2 separate regions of the Homo sapiens genome follow, and region 1 is linked to region 2. Evidence: fine-mapped expression QTL. A gene starts in region 2. The other region holds a variant in brackets. All regions are shown on one strand. Distances are between the middles of the regions.

The links. PIP is the estimated chance that this variant, and not a neighbour inherited with it, causes the effect.
Region 1: its variant is the best candidate, but not a certain one, in a credible set for the expression of TEX26 in testis (GTEx, PIP 0.85).

What each region holds. Positions count from the first base shown.
Region 1 is chr13:30,952,811-30,961,147 of GRCh38, forward strand. It overlaps TEX26 (testis expressed 26), which reads left to right. Exons shown (of 7, transcript NM_152325.3): 3 at 1-15; 4 at 4,063-4,219. Among named protein-coding and RNA genes, the nearest start is that of TEX26-AS2, 21 kb to the right of the region's middle. The variant G/A (reference allele first, on the strand shown) is at 4,062.
Region 2 is chr13:30,929,416-30,937,752 of GRCh38, forward strand. TEX26 (testis expressed 26) reads left to right here and starts at 3,241. Exons shown (of 7, transcript NM_152325.3): 1 at 3,241-3,361. The coding sequence starts at 3,301. TEX26-AS1 (TEX26 antisense RNA 1) reads right to left here and starts at 3,193. Exons shown (of 4, transcript NR_038287.1): 1 at 1,831-3,193; 2 at 1,386-1,459.

The sequences.
Region 1 (8,337 bases), 23 kb after region 2:
TCTCATCTCAATGAAGTAAGATAATATCTACATATGTGTTGAATTTAATACTGTACTGTATCAACAACTCATAAGAATGAGAGTTTAAATATGTCACAAAGATCTCTCAGCTTCTACAGTCACAGGATACATGGTTCTTTTTAGACTATTTCCTGTCTACCTTCTCACATTTATTTCTAACCTCTTGTGTTCTATCCCCTGGAGTTTTTTTTAAAAAAGGACTTTTTAAAAATTGAAGTGAAATTTACGTAATATAAAATTAACCTTTTAAAGTGAACAATTCACTGGCATTTAGTACATACATGCTGTTGGACAGCCATCACCTTTATTTTTGTTCCAAACCATTTTCATCATCCTAGAAGGAGACCTCATACCCATTAAGCAATTACCCCCGACTCCACTCCCCACCGTCTGCTTTCTATGTCCGTGGATTACCTTTTGTGGATATTTTACATGTGGAATCAATAATAGGTGACCTTTTGTGTCTGGCTTCTTTTCACTTAGCATAATGTTTTCAAGGTTCATCATCTAAGAAATTATCTGACTAGAAAGAAGACAGGAAAAGCACTATTATGAAGACTACCCATGTAGCATCCGTGTAGCAAATATCAGTACTTCCAGTCTTTGTCACAGTTGAATAATATTCTCTTCCGCGGATAAACCACAGTTTGTCTGTGTGTGCATCCATTAATGCATCTTTGGATTGTTTCCACCTTTTGGCTATTGTGAATTGTGCAGCTATGAACAGCCATGTACAAGTACTTGTGCTTAGCCTTGTGTTTCATACGCTCTCAAACCTCCATTTTTTAAATCATTCTGTTGCCTCTACCTAGAATGCCCTTATCCTGTGCATGAAGGGAACTCCTATATTTCTTCAAGACTCACATTAAAGAAAGCCATCTCTAAGTTCCTTCTCCCCTGGGTGGAAATAGCTGATTCTCCGTGTGTGTTTTCTTGTCTTTCTATTCCCTTCTCCCATCACAAAAGGTAATGCTTTGTTGTAGTAAAGGGTTTCATTTGCTTGACTGCCACATGGGATGGGACAACCTGGGATGGAGCCACCTTGATGCATTCAATAGATGATAAAGTGGTAGAATGAACAGGATTTGATGACTAAAAGGATGCAAAGGATAAGGAAGAGGAAAGTATAATGTTCAACTTCTGACTTGGACAGCTGGTGTATGCAGATTCTGTTTACTCAGCTGGAACATGGTGGAGGACCAGGTTGGGTGGAGAAGGGCATTGGGGGAACATGTAGTTTCAGTTGAAGACATGTTGGTTGAAGATGTGTCCAACAGGCAGTTTAATAGACAGGTCTGGAGCTCTTGGGGGAGAGATGAGCTGGACATATGGACTTGGAAGTCATTAGAATGTATACATATAGCTGATTAAATTTGGTTCCTTGTGATATCCATTCATTGTAATGTATTCAACCCTGAAAAAAAATATATATATTTATAGACCTATACACACACACACACACACACACACACACACACACACACACACATATATGTATGTATATATCTCTTGGAGATATACACATAAAACTCCTGTCTCTAAAAATATATATATCTAAATTATATATTTAATATATAATTTATATATAATATAAAAATATGTCTCTAACATATGTATTATTATGTATAATTAGATATATTACAGACAAGATCTTGCTTTGTGGCCCAGGGTGAAGTGCAGTGGCACAATCAATCAGAGGTCACTACAGCCTCGAACTCTTGAACTCAAGTGATGCTCCCACCTCACCCTCCAGAGTAGCTTAAAGTACAGGTGCATGCCACCATGCCCAGCTAATTTTTTATTTTTTGTAGAGATAGAATCTCACTCTGTTTCCCAGGCTGGTCTCAAACTCCTGGGTTCAAGCAATCCTTTCACCCTGGCCTTCCAAAGCCCTGGGATTACAGCCGTGAGACACTATGCTTGGTCATCCTTTATATTTTAAAATTAATGTAGAAGAGTTGATTACAATATTATACTGTATGTATACAATATTATACTGTATTTATACATTCACAAACACACGACCATATAATTTTCCCTTCCTCTAAGTACTATTGAAGGCTCTCAACCAATGAGAGCTAGTGTGGCTGACTGTCCTGCGTGTTCTCAGCCAATGAGTGTTCACATGCCAGATGGCAGCTCCTATTATTCTAGGTATTGAATATCAACAACTGCTAACGTTACACAAGAAAAACAACGATGTATTATCTGCCTCCTACAGCCTTGTGAAACACCATTTATTCAGGGGTGTCTAATCTTTTGGCTTCCCTGGGCCACAGTGGAAGAAGAATTGCTTTGGGCCACACATAAAATACACTAACACTAATGATAGCTGATGAGCTTTAAAAAATGAAATCGCAAAAATATCTCATAATGTTTTAAATAAGTTTATGAATTTGTGTTGGGCCACATTCAAAGCCATCCTGGGTGGGGCCACAGGTTGGACAAGCTTGACTTCTAGTTTAGTGAATTTGAGTCTCTGGATACACCTGCCAATTTGCAGGAAATACAGGGGACAGAGGAACTTGTTAAACAACAAATGCATACGCAATCAACAAAATCCAGACTTTGGGACCTCTGCACAGCAAATGGCTTCTTCAATAGATAAATCATAATTTTATGTATTGGTTTTTCCAGTTGATAGATTGTGAGGGAAAGAAGGGAATCAAGAGAGAACTTGAAAATTAAAAGAGGTTTAAAAGGCAAGTTTGGGACAGCGAGTATACCTAACTATTTTGAAGAATTTTGGTGCAAAGGGAAACTGAGGAATAGCTTAGTAACTAGAAGGGGAAGTACAGTGAAGAGAGTGCTTTCTTTTTAAGATAGGAGAAATAAACGCATTCTTTGATACAGATGGCAATGATCCAGCAGAGAGGAAGAGATTCAAGTTGCAAGAGAGAAGTAAGGACTGTTGGAGCGATTTGCTGGAGTAGACTCAGTAGAGAGGGATCTAGTGCTGCAGGCGGGGCTGGGCCTTGCTGAGGGCACCTGCGCGGCTCCCCTCCCGTCACAGCATGTGTGAGTGCAGGTGCGGTGGCTGGGACACGGTTGGTGGGCTGTGGAGGTTATTTTCTGGTGGCTTCAATTTTCTCAGGGAAATAGGAAGCAAGATCATGGGAAAGAGGGACGATGGCAAGAGGGGGTGAAGATTTCAAGTTTTATCATCCTAAAATCTCTCTTTTTTAATTTTATTATTATTATACTTTAAGTTTTAGGGTACATGTGCACAACGTGCAAGTTTGTTACATATGTATACATGTGCCATGTTGGTGTGCTGCACCCATTAACTAGTCATTTAGCATTAGGTATATATCCTAATGCTATCCCTCCCCCCTCCCCCCACCCCACAACAGGCCCCGGTGTGTGATGTTCCCCTTCCTGTGTCCATGTGTTCTCATTGTTCAATTCCCACCTATGAGTGAGAACATGCGGTGTTTGGTTTTTTGTCCTTGCAATAGTTTGCTGAGAATGATGGTTTCCAGCTTCATCCATGTCCCTACAAAGGACATGAACTCATCATTTTTTATGGCTGCATAGTATTCCATGGTGTATATGTGCCACATTTTCTTAATCCAGTCTATCATTGTTGGACATTTGGAGGTGACAAGAGAGTGCTGGCCATTCCTGTCCTTCAGCAAGTTGCTGAGGCCTCTGCATGTAAGGCAGAGTTTTCCTCAGGGGCTCCCAAGGGGAAAGCAGCTACTGCCTGTGCTCCTTGGGAATGGCCAGAACTAGAATTAACATGGGTTATTTCTTCCCTTAGTCTTATCTGTAGGAGACTTCTGGTTGGAAGCACAACTCTTTGAAGTTTTCAATCTCATTTTCTCATTTTCAATGTGAAAAGTCAAAGAAATGTACAGAGCCCGCGTTTCGACTGGGTCAACCAATGTCTCCTGTTGACGGGCTCCCAGCATCCATGCACCTGCAGTGGCAGCTGGTTGTAAAGGATTCTGAAGAATATGTGCACACAGACACTCAGATTATTGATCCTATTGGGTGAACCCATATGGATTTTCTTGAAAATTATGTTTGCTTTGATA[G/A]GACATTTTCCTGTGGACACTACCTCACTGTCAACAAACGGGGACACTAAAGAACTGCCTCCCTTGGAAAATCCCGGCTTCAATGAAAGAAGTTAACAAGGCACTATCAAATCAGTTTATTTCCCTTACTAAGAGAGACTTTGTGGACAGATCAAAAGGTAAACACTTTTGTTTTTCTTTTTTTCCTGGGTCATGTGGTAGGCCCTGGAGTTGCAGTGGTCGGCAGCATGCGTGTGTTCTTCTCCTTCAAGGAACTTGAAGTCTAGGCATGGAGACAGGCGACTTTGCAAATAAAAACCATCAAGTATAAAAAGGTGCACCTTGTGGGAAATGCAGGTTGCTGTGGGCATACAGGAAGACATCCAGCTTAGTGTGGGATAGGGGGTCAGGAAAGGCTTCCCTGCCTGGCCCAAAGGATGAAGAGGAATTAGCCAGGCAAAGAGGTAGGGGAGAGTGTTGTTACAGGATTGAAGACCTGCAGGAACATTTCAGGAACTAAAAGAACTTCAGCAAGAGTAGAGCATCAAGGGCAAAGGGAGGGTTGAGGGAGGAGATCAACGTGGGCAGAGAACACCCAGTCTGGAAGGGCATTACAGGGCATACTAAAGAGTTTGGAGTTCATCCCAGAAGCAATTAAGAGGTTTTTATTAAGGTAGTGACACAATTCAGATGTCGACTTTTAGAAGCCTCACACTGGCTGCAGAGTGAAGAATGGAGATGGCCCTTCAGGAAGAAGGTGGACAGGAGGAGGCTGTTAGGGGAGCGCAGAGAGGAGTGAGGTGGCTTGACACAGGGCTGTGGCAGTGCGGATGGAGGCAGGATCTGCAAGGTGGTGGCATGGGCACTTCAGTCAGCAATAAGCCCCTTCCAGGGTAGGGGCTGTGGCTTTTGGCTCACATTGTCTCACCAGCACCCACCCCAGTGCCTGGCTTATCACAGGTGATGAAAATAAATATTGGTTGAACAAATAAATGAATGATAGGGATGAGTGACTGACAGATGTCAGAGATACGGGAGTAATAGGAGTCTGCCTTGGAGTTCCTTGTGGATGGGATGCTGGTGTCTTCTGTAGGTAAGTAGGAAACCATGAGAGGATGAAGTGAGGGCCATTTTATTCTCTCCTTTGTTAGAGATGAAAAGTCCAGCACACTATTCATCCTGCTTCCTGGAAGAGCACATGTGTCCTGGGATGGGAACTCTGCTATGCAGATTCCCCTGTGAGAATCTAGATTCTCTCATGCTTCACCTGGCTCTGCCCTTAGGGCTCTGTGGCTGGGAACACCTTTGACTGTTTTTTTGTAGGGTAAGTAGAGATGACATCATAGCTTCCATGTCTCAGGGGGTCAAAAATGAGTTCCATCTATACCAACACATTTTCCAGAAATGACATATTTGGTGATTCAATGCAATTTTGGTCTTGCTTATCAGCAGGAAATTTACTTTATTGAGAATTCATGAAAATTGATTATATTTTTAGACGCACAGACGGAAATCTTTTCCTAAGTTACTGAGAAAGCCACACACGCTGGTGCATGGCTCTAAGCCCTGTGACACAATGGCAGTTGGAGTATTGGTGTTCTCCTGCTTTTTGGTGACAAAATAATGACACCCAGTGACTGCTGAGGAAGGCTGGCTGCCCTGTGGGCTCTGAACACAAGCCAGGGAGTGCTGAGGGCCCCTGTTCACCCGAGGACAGGAGAATGACACATCTCTCAAGGTCTGGGTGTCTCCATCTTCATCCTACATCCCTTTTCCTGCCCCAACAGAACCATCAATCCCTGTGAGCTGTGGATCTGTCTCCCTGTCCCCTGAACAAGAACTTTATCTTTCCAGTTCTCTGGCCTTTTCTCCAACATCATCCCTCCATCTCTAAAGTATTAATCCCACCCCACCGGCATGCACATTGACTGTAGTATATCCCGTCTAGCATGTTCCAGATGAAAACAAAAACAGAGCTTTCCCTCAACCCCATCTCTTCTTTTAGCTACTGTTCATTTCTCTGCTTCCCTTCATAAACAGCCAATGTTTACTAAGCCCTTAGCTTTTCATAAATTAACACAGTTAATTTTCACAACCTGTGAAGTTATTACCGCCAATCAAAGAGGGGGATCTAAAACTCAGTGTGGTTAAGCAACATGCCCAGGGTTGCCCAGCTCAGGACTGGTGGTGTCTAGGATTTGAACCCAGGCAGTCTGGCTTCTCTTATTAGAACTACCTCCTTCCCAGCTAAAATTCCTTCAAGAGTCAGTTTATACATGGTATTCTGAATTCCTAACTTCTTGTTTACAGTTTTTAAACATTAAAATTTACTTTTATTAAACAAATGTATGCATATACTTAAATGATTACTTACAGGCATATAAAGAAACAACAGTAGTTCCTTGACCTACCCCGCCCCATCCCTACTCTTATTCCTCATTGGCAGTCAATTTCAATCTGGTTAACTATTTCTTCTTATGTGATTTTTAAATAATTTGCTTCTACTGCTCCTCTTCATTCATGAATTTTAGACGTTATTGACTTCTGTTTTGGAAGCTGAGGATTTGGCTATCCTATAACTCTGTCTCACTGGCCCTCCATCCATCATGTCAATATAATTATATTACAGATTTCTTGTTAAATTCAATTGCTAGTGTATATATTATGATATGACATACTGTGATTACATGAGTACGTAAATGTTTGCTGCTGAGCCAAGTTGTATTTCATTATTTCCTTTGCTTGTTGTTTTCTCTTATTTTTACCAGAATTAATTGTTTTTCTCTACGTGTTTACTTTTCTACATGCCTGTCACTATTTTTTTCCATACTTTGTTGTACACTTACCAAAATTTTTTCCAAACACAATGACAGAATAGAACAGAGAAAAGAGAGGAGAGAAAAATATTAAAGGAGTAATGCAGGAAAAAATTCTCAGAGTTTCTAGATTGAAAGGGCCCCTGAATGCCTGACATAACGAATGACAAAAGACTGTCACTAATGCATGTAAGTGTGGAATTTCAGAATGTCAGGAATAAAGAGATCTTAAGTGTTTCCAGGGGGTTGACATAAAAAAGATCAGAAATTAAAATGTCATCTGTCTTCTACATAGAAATCCTGGATGCTAGAAGACATTTGGAAAAATGTGTTGAAGGGAAGTGATTTCCAACCTAAAATTCTATATCCAGCCAAACTATCAAGCAAGTCTAATGAAGAAAAAAAGACATTTCCAGATTGACAAGAATATACTTTCAAAAGTTCCTCCAACACACCCTTTCTTAGGAAGCTACTGGATAGTTGGATCGAGCCTTAAATTATCTTACCTTTTCTCTCCTAGCTTCTTTCTCTTTGTATTTTTGTTCTGTTTATTTGAAAACTTCTATACCTTTTTTGTTTTGTCTGTTTGTTTGTTTTTCATGGAGACAGAATCTCCACCAGGCTGGAGTGCAGTTGTGTGATCTTGGCTCACTGCAGCCTCTGCCTCCCAGATTCAAGCAATTCTCATGCCTTAGCCTCCTGAGTAGCTGAGACTGCAGGCATGCACCACCACGTCCGGCTAATTTGTTTGTATTTTTAGTAGAGTCAGGATTTCACCATGTTGCCCAGGCTGGTCTTGAACTCCTGAGGTCAGGCAATCCACCCACCTCAGCCTCCCAAAGTGCTAGGATTACAGATATGAGCCACCATGCCTGGCTGAAAACTTCTTTACTTTTTAATCTAGCTCTTCATTAAATTTTATTACAGGTCTCATATTTTTAATTTCTAAGCTCTCTTTCTTCCTCCCTCCAATTATTTTTTAAAAACAGCATTCTGCTCTTATTTTATAATGCAGTAATTCTCATGAATTTTAAGATATTTATGATATAATTAACTTTCAGCATTTTCATCTGTTTCTTGCATTGTTTCCATTTTTCTCTGAGTGTCTTAATGGTCTAATGAAAATTTGATTGTCCATATTTGCAAGGGAGCAGAGGCCGATTCATTATAAAGCTAATAAAACTCAAGTTTCACTTTTGTGGACTCTTCTTTTTCTTAAAGTGGGTGCACACAAAATATTAAACTCCAAGGCTCAAAAACCTACAAAGGAGGTATCAAATATAATTAAAAACTGTGTACAAAGAAGGGACTTGTTAGCTGGTACTTGACTTAGGTGATTAGAGGATGAGCTATCTTTCTTGGGGGAAATCCCTAAATGCCATTATTTGTGGATCAGTCTCTCCAGAGAGGTAATTCTGACTGCTGGCATTCTGAGAGCAGGAGTGGAGAAGCAAGGGGTTGGGATCTTCCTGGCTGGTGTG
Region 2 (8,337 bases):
TTCTTCTCTGTTATAGTTCAAACCTGAGTGTTCTATATTTGCTATCTCTTCACCCTTACCACCCATCCCAGTCTTTACTACTTCACATCATGTTCTCTATGTGTGTGTTTGTGTGTGTGTGCGCGCACATGCACGGACCTGCATGCGCAGGTGCGTGTGTGCATGCAAAAATAAATTGTCACAAATTTTTTGTTTTTTGTTTTTGGAGATGGGGTTTTTCTCTTGTCACCCAGGCTGGAGTGCAGTGGCACCACTACAGCTCACTGCAGCCTCAAACTCATGGGCTTAATTGATCCTCCCACCTCAGCTTCCCAAGTAGCTGGGACTACACATATGCATCACCTTGCCTAATTTTTTCATTTTTTGTAGAAACGGGGTCTCCCTATGTTGTCCAGGCTTGTCTCAAACTTCTAGGCTCAAAGGATCCTCTTGCCTTGGACTCCCAAAGTATTGGGATTACAAGCATGAGCCACCTCGCTTGGCTGTAATCACTTCAACTGAAAACAACCAATTAACATTTAACCCATTCAATACAACTATTCTCAATTGTTTTGGATCAATTTGAAACTCTGCTAAAGAGATATCAGTAACCTAAATTAGTAACCTAGATGCTTTAATTTCTGAATGATTAACTTACTCTGGCAGAATGTTGTGGAATTTTGCCTCTCCTCCTTCTGGAATGAGAGGCCAGGATTTACTTAAACTTCCAACCTGGCCCCTGCACTGCATTGTTTAACCCAAGCATGCTCAGGTGAAGTCCAAGCTTCTCAGGATGGCCTGCAGGGCCTTCCACCCCAGCCGGCTCTCAGTTTCCCCTGACACACTTTACAATATGGCAATATTAAACTACTAAAGGTCTTGGGACTACACACAGTGTTCCATGCCTCTGGGCCCTTGCGTTACTTTGTGTCACCTGTCACCTCCCCCTATTCACCTGGTTGACTCCAAGCATCCTTGAGGACCCAGCTCAGGCACCTCCTTTTCTAGGAAGTTGTTCACTATAATAATCAGGGTGTTGCCCCGATGCCATCATACAGCTCATATTCAGTGCACAGTCAGTATTTGTTGAGGGAGAGAAGAAAGCAGGGGGGAAATACTCTACTTAATCATTTAGAAGGGTTGCCTCAGGCAACCAGAATTCAAAGGCAGGAATAGTGCTATACCGCTAGCCATAAAATGGACCCACGCAAAAATACACTTTGAAGTAGAAAGACTATAAAAGGAATGAAGATCAGAATAGCAACAAGAGCAATATCTTAGATTTGTGTGATTTTACAATTTATAAATTATTGTTAGAACTCATCATGTTTACAGCACAGTGAGGTGGGTGCTGGTATTCTCATTTACAGATAAGGAGACCAGGGATCAGGGAAGGATTTGCTTACCCCTAAGGGCCTGCAGTGACAGAAAGATCCTTTGGCTCTCTATTTGGTTCCTACCGCACCATTTCACAGCTTGCCTAAAATGAGACAAATTGTAAGATATTAATAAGAATTCACTTTCAAAATTCTATATACTTGCTGCTCTATTTTAAACATATATTTCTCTTAAATTATGCTATGCTAATTAGCTCTACCATTTCCAGACAGTAATCTGTTATTGGGTGCTACTTTTTAAATTTAGATGCCACTACTAAATCCTAATTTAGACTCATTCCTTTTAATAACATCTATGCCTTCTAATGTGTTCCACCCTCCATTGCTTCAAAACATGAGAGTTTATAATGTGTTATATTCATTCCATTATATGGATAGAACTCTACCTTCAGGAAATTCTAGTTTAGCTCTTCATTTTAAAGACATTCCTTGCACATATATTTGGGATCCTTACCTTGATGCTTTTTCTGTCTCCTTTGATAAATTCCTCCTTTGTCACACTGCACTGTTTCTCTGAGGTCTTGTATTAGAATAGCCCCTTAAGAATAAGGAACTGTTGTAAATTGCTTTGTAAACAGGTTGCCAGCCAACTCCAAAATGTATTTCCTGTCTTCTCTTTTCACCCAAGTGGGTAATAACTGTGTTGTAACCTGGAGACAGTCAGTAGTTACTAACCACCTAGTATGTCAAATTACCAGGTAAGGTTATCCAGCAAAAGGGGCTCACTGCACTAGAAGCCAACACTATGACACCAAGTTTTTGAGAAAAGGAAAGCTTCACATTGCAAGTTAACTTCTGAGGAAACAAAAGTCCAGTTCAAATCTGTCTTGTACTGGCTTTAGGGCAGTAATTTTATTACAAAAGGTTTAGGGTTGGATCCTGGGGTTAGCAGGTGATTGGTGGAAGCAAAGGGAACATCTGGGAAGTCTTCAGGCATGCATGGCTCTCTCTTCATGCTTCCTGGTGGGTCCCATGTGCAAATTTGGAGGGAGTTGGTATGAAACATGCAGTAGAAATTCAGGCTGTGACATCAGCAAGCTTGCTGTGCGCAAACTGCATTTGGCCATATTGATTCCGGCTGATTTCAGTCAGTTTTGTTATAAGCAGAGGGAGTTTCAGCAAATTGTTTCTTTTCTTATCTGCCCCTGAAAACAAGAATTTCTGTTAGTTATTGGTGTCTTTGACTCTTTGAAACAGTTTCAGTAGTTCCCAAGATATGAAGATAAAAGACCCCCTTCATCAGTGAAAACTCTTACAAGGGGATGAAAGACACAGCTTCCTCTATGAGAGCACAAGAACAATTAAATTGACCCTCACAAACACTATGGTTGGTGCCAGGAACGTGGCCTGGTGAGGAGGACAGTGTCACATCCTCCCTGCCCACTCCTGTTTCCACGCGTGCATTTCCTCTTCTGCCCCTCTCCTAAGCCAGGATGACCCTTCTGACCGCGTGGAACTATCACAGAAACTGCTTCCATTTATACCAGATGACTTGGGATTCAGTCTTCTTGCTTGGTTTTTATTGACTGCAAAAATCCATGACAACTTTGCGCACATTTGCTTAAGCTGAAAGCAAATGGATGAAAGTTTGTAGTTGAAAATCTACTTTCTCTTCAATCTCTTCCCTTTTTGCTTTTCTTAGGAAACATACAAGACAGTGGTCCGGAAAGCTCACTGCAAGAACTGTACAAATAATGTAAAAGTAAGGCATCCATAAGATCAAAGCCACATTTCTTTGCTCTCTGCACCCCATTCCCGCGCCGGCCAGGTTAAGCCTCCTGCGTGGCCAGCACCCCTTGGCAGGGGCAGAACTCCCTGGAACCCGATCCTTGTCTCCATGGCGACGCGTCACAAAGCAGCCCGCGGCTCCCGCAAGCGCTGAGATAGCTGGAGCCAGGGCCCCGCGGCCGCCTCCTGGGGCAGAATGGAACAGCCTGGGCCCAGGGCTCCGGATCCCTCTCTCTGCCACCACAACCTCCAGCCAAGTAAGACAGCAGACTCTGCCGGTCTGCGGGGCGGGGCTGGGGTCTTTCCCGGGGAAAGGGTCCTGTTGAGAAAAAGGGGCCTTAGTATTTAAGGGTGTGGCATCGCTCTTAGGAGTATGCTCAACTGAGGAAAAGACGGGGAGTCAGGGAGAATGACAGGGCCTTCATGACGCTGCCCCTTTTCAGTCCTTCGCATAACCTTTGCCAAATCCCCGCTCCCTAAAACGCGCAGGGTTTTTAAACACTCGAGGAAGTGCCTGGCTAAGAGGGGACAGGAAAAAAGGAAGAACTGGTGATTTTCCAAGGAAAACAGGGCCAAAGGCAAAGAAGAAAGAGAAGTCCTGGAAGCTCTGAAGAGAACAGGTCCTGCCTGAGTCCCGATCCCCATATAGGATCTTGGAAACAGCAAGGAAAGTGGGGGAAGGGTTGGCTGCTGAATGGAGTCCCAGCTGTGTCTGCAGAGGCAGACGCCCTCCCTGGGCTGTCGCACCAGGCTGGGAGCCATGGCCTTCAGCTGCCGCCTCTAACCTGAATTGATTTTTCTTCCACAGAGATTTTGTATTTCACAGAGGTAGTGCTTTTCATCCTAATTCTGCCCACAGATGCAGCAGGTTCACCAGTTCAGCCTTTTGGGTCTGTGGAGGGAGAACCACTCTAGCTGTGACGCTAGTGGCATGATTACCGTGTAGTCAGCTCCATCATAGTCTCTTGTGGCAATAATTGGCCATTGCTGCTGTATAGTTGGGTAACTGTGATTCCACAGTGGCTATGGAGCAGTGAAGGATTGTTCAAGTACAAATTCCCTAGAATTGTGCTCCCAAAAGAGTGAATGAAATGCATATTTTCATTCCAATTCATTCCGTTGTAAATTAAGAATGGAAAATGAAAATACTTAATTAGTGCAGAAAATATCTAATACACTCAGTTTCTATATGATGGGAAGGCAAACAGGAGAGACAGAGGAGGGAGGATCCCCTCCTAGCATCCCGACAGCACCCCTTTGGATGCTTCTCTTCCCTTTCTAACCACCCTGTTTTCCCACTGTCTCCCCATTTCATCCCCTTCTTGTCTGGGAACTGTTGGAGTCCCCCAGGATTGATCCTTCTAGGCTTACCTTCTCTTTGTGACCATATCCTGCACAGGGCTTCAAGTGCTGCATAAAGGTGCCAACAACTCTCTAACCTTTATCTCTGACTTGGACTTTCTTCCTACTTTTTCAGACCAGAATATCTAACTGTCTACCAGACAGTTCCATGTGGGTGTCACAGCAGGGCCTCCAACTTGACATGTGCAAAATCACACTCCTTGTCCTCCTCAAACCTTCCAGACTTTGAGAGTTCAGTTAAGAGGGTCCTAGCTGCTCAATTTAGAAGGGAAGGCAGCTTCCTTGAGACTGCAGTTTGATCACCAGGTCTCTTTGATTCTGCCTCCAAAGCTCTTTTTCCCCCAGGTGAATTCGCCCCTTTACCTCCAGGCTTGGGCCTCTAATGGCTACTCTGTGCCACTTCATTCCCCACTGCTGGGAGAGTCACCCTCCAAATGGTAGGCTTGATGTGTCCCCACTGCCCAGGTTTGGTCCGAAATAGGATGAGGTTGATGGTGACTGATGACTAACTGTTATTGAATAATTACTACAGATGGGGCTCTCAGGTGTTGTATTAGTTTCCTGTGGCTGCTATGTGTTCCCACAGACTGGTGGATTCAAACAACAAAAATGTATTTGCTCACAGCTCTGAAGGTCGAGAGCCTGAAATCAAGGTCTGGACAAGTCTGCACTCCCTCTACAGGCCCTAGGGGAGAAGTGGTCCTTACGTCTTCCAGCTTCAGGTAGCCATCGGCACTGCTAGTGATGGCAGTGGCTGCTGCCATCATGCTGGCTGCAGCAGGGAAGCACAGCTGGGGCTGCAACACTCCATGGAGCCCGTGGGAGCTGCCCCTTCTGAGTTGGGATGGGAGCTCCCTGTGCCGCTACAGCCGCCCAAACTGCAGCTACAGACCCAGGCCTCCTGCTCTATGGAGCAAGCAGGAGCCCTGCAGTCCTGGGCGAGGCTACAGCCACCCAAACTGCGGCTGTGGGTCTGAGCCTCCCTGTGCCTCTGAGCCTCCCTGTGGAACCCACGGCTGCAGACCTGGGCCTTTCACTCCATGAAGCAGGCAGGAGCCAGGGACAAGTGGGAGCTTTGCCTCTTCCAAGTTGGTGGGGCAAGAGCTCCCTGGTGCAGCTGCAGCTGCCCTCCCAGGCACAGGACCTGGGCATCTCTGCAGCCTGCACCCTTGGACTCCCCAGGAAGGACACCCTTCACCCATCCATCCCTGCAGGCTCAGGGGTATCTGATCCCACTGCCAGGCAATACCCCACCCACATCCCTGCAGGCTAAAGGGTATCTGCTCCCACTGCCTGGCCTCTCTCCACTGGCTCTGATCTCAGAGTGGGGTTGGGACCAAGCCCCAGGGCTGTGAATGGCAGCAGGAGGCAGACAGAGTCCTGGGTGGAAGGGGCTGGGGTCCCCAGTAAGGCCCCACCCTCTGACCAGGGAGGGCCTGAAGTCTGGGGACCAGGCTGCCAGTCAGGAATCTGAGTGGGGACTCATGCTGCCTCCTCCAGCCTGCGCATGGCCACCCATGGACCAATCAGCATGCACTTCCTTCCCTCTGAAGTCCATAAAAACCCTGGGCTCAGCCAGAGCAGGGAAGAGGACAGCAGCCAGAGAATGAAGAGGGCAGGGAGAGACAAGGGAACCCCCCGCTGTAGAGGAGTATGCTCTCTGCTGATAGCTGGAGATGATGGGGCAACTAGCTGCAGAAAGGAAGGAGTACCCTCTCGACTGCCGACAGACAGGAGCTACGCTCTCTGCTGAGAGCTTCAGAGACCTGCAGAGATCTCTGAATGACTTGCCTATGGAGAGGAGCTACGCTGCCTAGGGCCTCCTCTCTACTGACAGCTGAACACTTGACCGGATGACCTGCCTACAGAGAGAAGCTACCCACTCCTCCGAGCTGTTCTAACACTAAAACTCTTCTTCACTCTTCACTTGTCTGTGTACCTCAATGCGGGACAAAAACTCTGGCAAAGGCACTGCAGCCACAGAGTTTTCCAGCCAGAAAAATCAACACCCCAGAGATCCTGTAATGCTAGCTTGTGGCCTCATTACTCCAGGTCTCTGTCTCTGTCTTATAAGCACACTTGTAATTGCATTTAGGGTACACGAGGATAATCCAGGATGATTTCCTAATCTCGAAATCTTTAATTGCGTGTGCAAAGACCCCTTTTCCCAATAAAGTAAGATTCACAGGTTTTGGGGATTAGGACATGGAAATATCTTTTTTGTAGTGTCACCATGTGGCACACTACAAGCAACTTACATATATCAATACCTTGAATCCTCAAAACAAAGTGAGGGAATAAAATAATATATGTGAAAATATTTTGTAAAGTATAATAGAATATACATGTTACTACTTTATAATATTTTTTAAGCTTTATATTTTCCTAATGGTGAACACATCCAGTGGATTGTCAAGGTTAGCAGAATGAGGCTTTAGGATGCTTTGCTGACCTGTCATTAGCCATCTTTCCCTTTGCTCCATTCACATGGGGCTATTTGTTGTGTCTCATCTCAGACTCTCATACCTCATGCTACTTCCTCTGTAAATTGTTTTACTTCATGTCCTGTGCTTCTCTTTCAAACATCTACTAAATTAAATCACAGCTCAGATGCCACCTATGCTATGATGACCCCTGGGCCTGCCCTTGCTGCCGCATCTTCTCATCCAAGCAAAAAGAATTGCACCCTCTTCATGTTCCCTGTGACACATAGGACATCAGCACCACATTAAACTTGTGCTCATAGGATACATAGCTCATCTCTTGGCCTGTGAGTTCTCCAAGGCCAGGTCAAGACTCTGTGTCCCAGTGCTCCACAGGGCTGGGTCCACGGGAGGGCTTGGGGACTTCTTTGAAGGAGGAACAGAAAATGAGAGAAGAAAGAATTAGGAAGACGTAATCACAGGAAAGATGGATATGAGCTACACAAAAGGACATTGAGATACTGAGAAGAAAGTAGTGACTTGCAGAGAACATACTAGGAACAGATTTTCAGAATATTGTGATTACAGATTTCTCAATGAACATTTCTGTTAATGAAGAAAATTAATTCCAATGGCATACTGTACTTTCAGAAGCTTTGTCAATGGAGGTAAAAAGCATAGAAATACAGCCCTTACAAAAAGAGTTGTAGTAAGGGAAATCATTAACATGAAATTAAAGGAAGATGTACCAAAGATCAAGTGTGCATCCAAGCAGGTTAGGATTAGGGAGTGGAGGGTGTGCCTGATCTGTACAAAGGTAACAATGGAAGAGGGAGGCTCTCATGGCCTCAGTTCCTGGAAACAGTAAGGCATGCTGCTCTTGTCCGTCAGACTCCTGATCCAGGCACCTGGCAATTGGTGACCCCAGCTGCCAAACTATCTTCAGAAGGGATAGGACCCTAGATGGGCGGGAACACAGAGGGGCGTGTCGTGCTTGCCCACATGATTGATTGGGAGGTGCTGCCTGGAGTGCTGTTCTGCCAGGCTTTTTGAGGCATATCTGAGCCTAATAGAAATGTGATCTGGACTGTTAGAGTTGTTTGCCTTAGAAAAAACAGGGAAAATTTATGTGTGGCTTTTGTGCAGAATATCCTTCCTGATTGTTCCGAAAGTCCAATGCCGAAGTTCAAATCAGGTTAGAGAAGGCTTCTTTTACGAGTGGCATGCCTCACAATTTCTTCCCTTTTACTTGTTCATACTTGTAATTCTTTTAACAAAGAACATTGAATTCTGCTATTGGGATAAAATGCTTTCAAGCATAAAGCGATGCCCACTAAAGAAGGAGTATTGGAGAATGATGTCATTTCTTGTAGAGCAGGATTAGAGAGCAGACACTAGGAGTGCATAGAAGCACAGTTACAGAGTGGGGAATACAAGGGGCTAAGGCT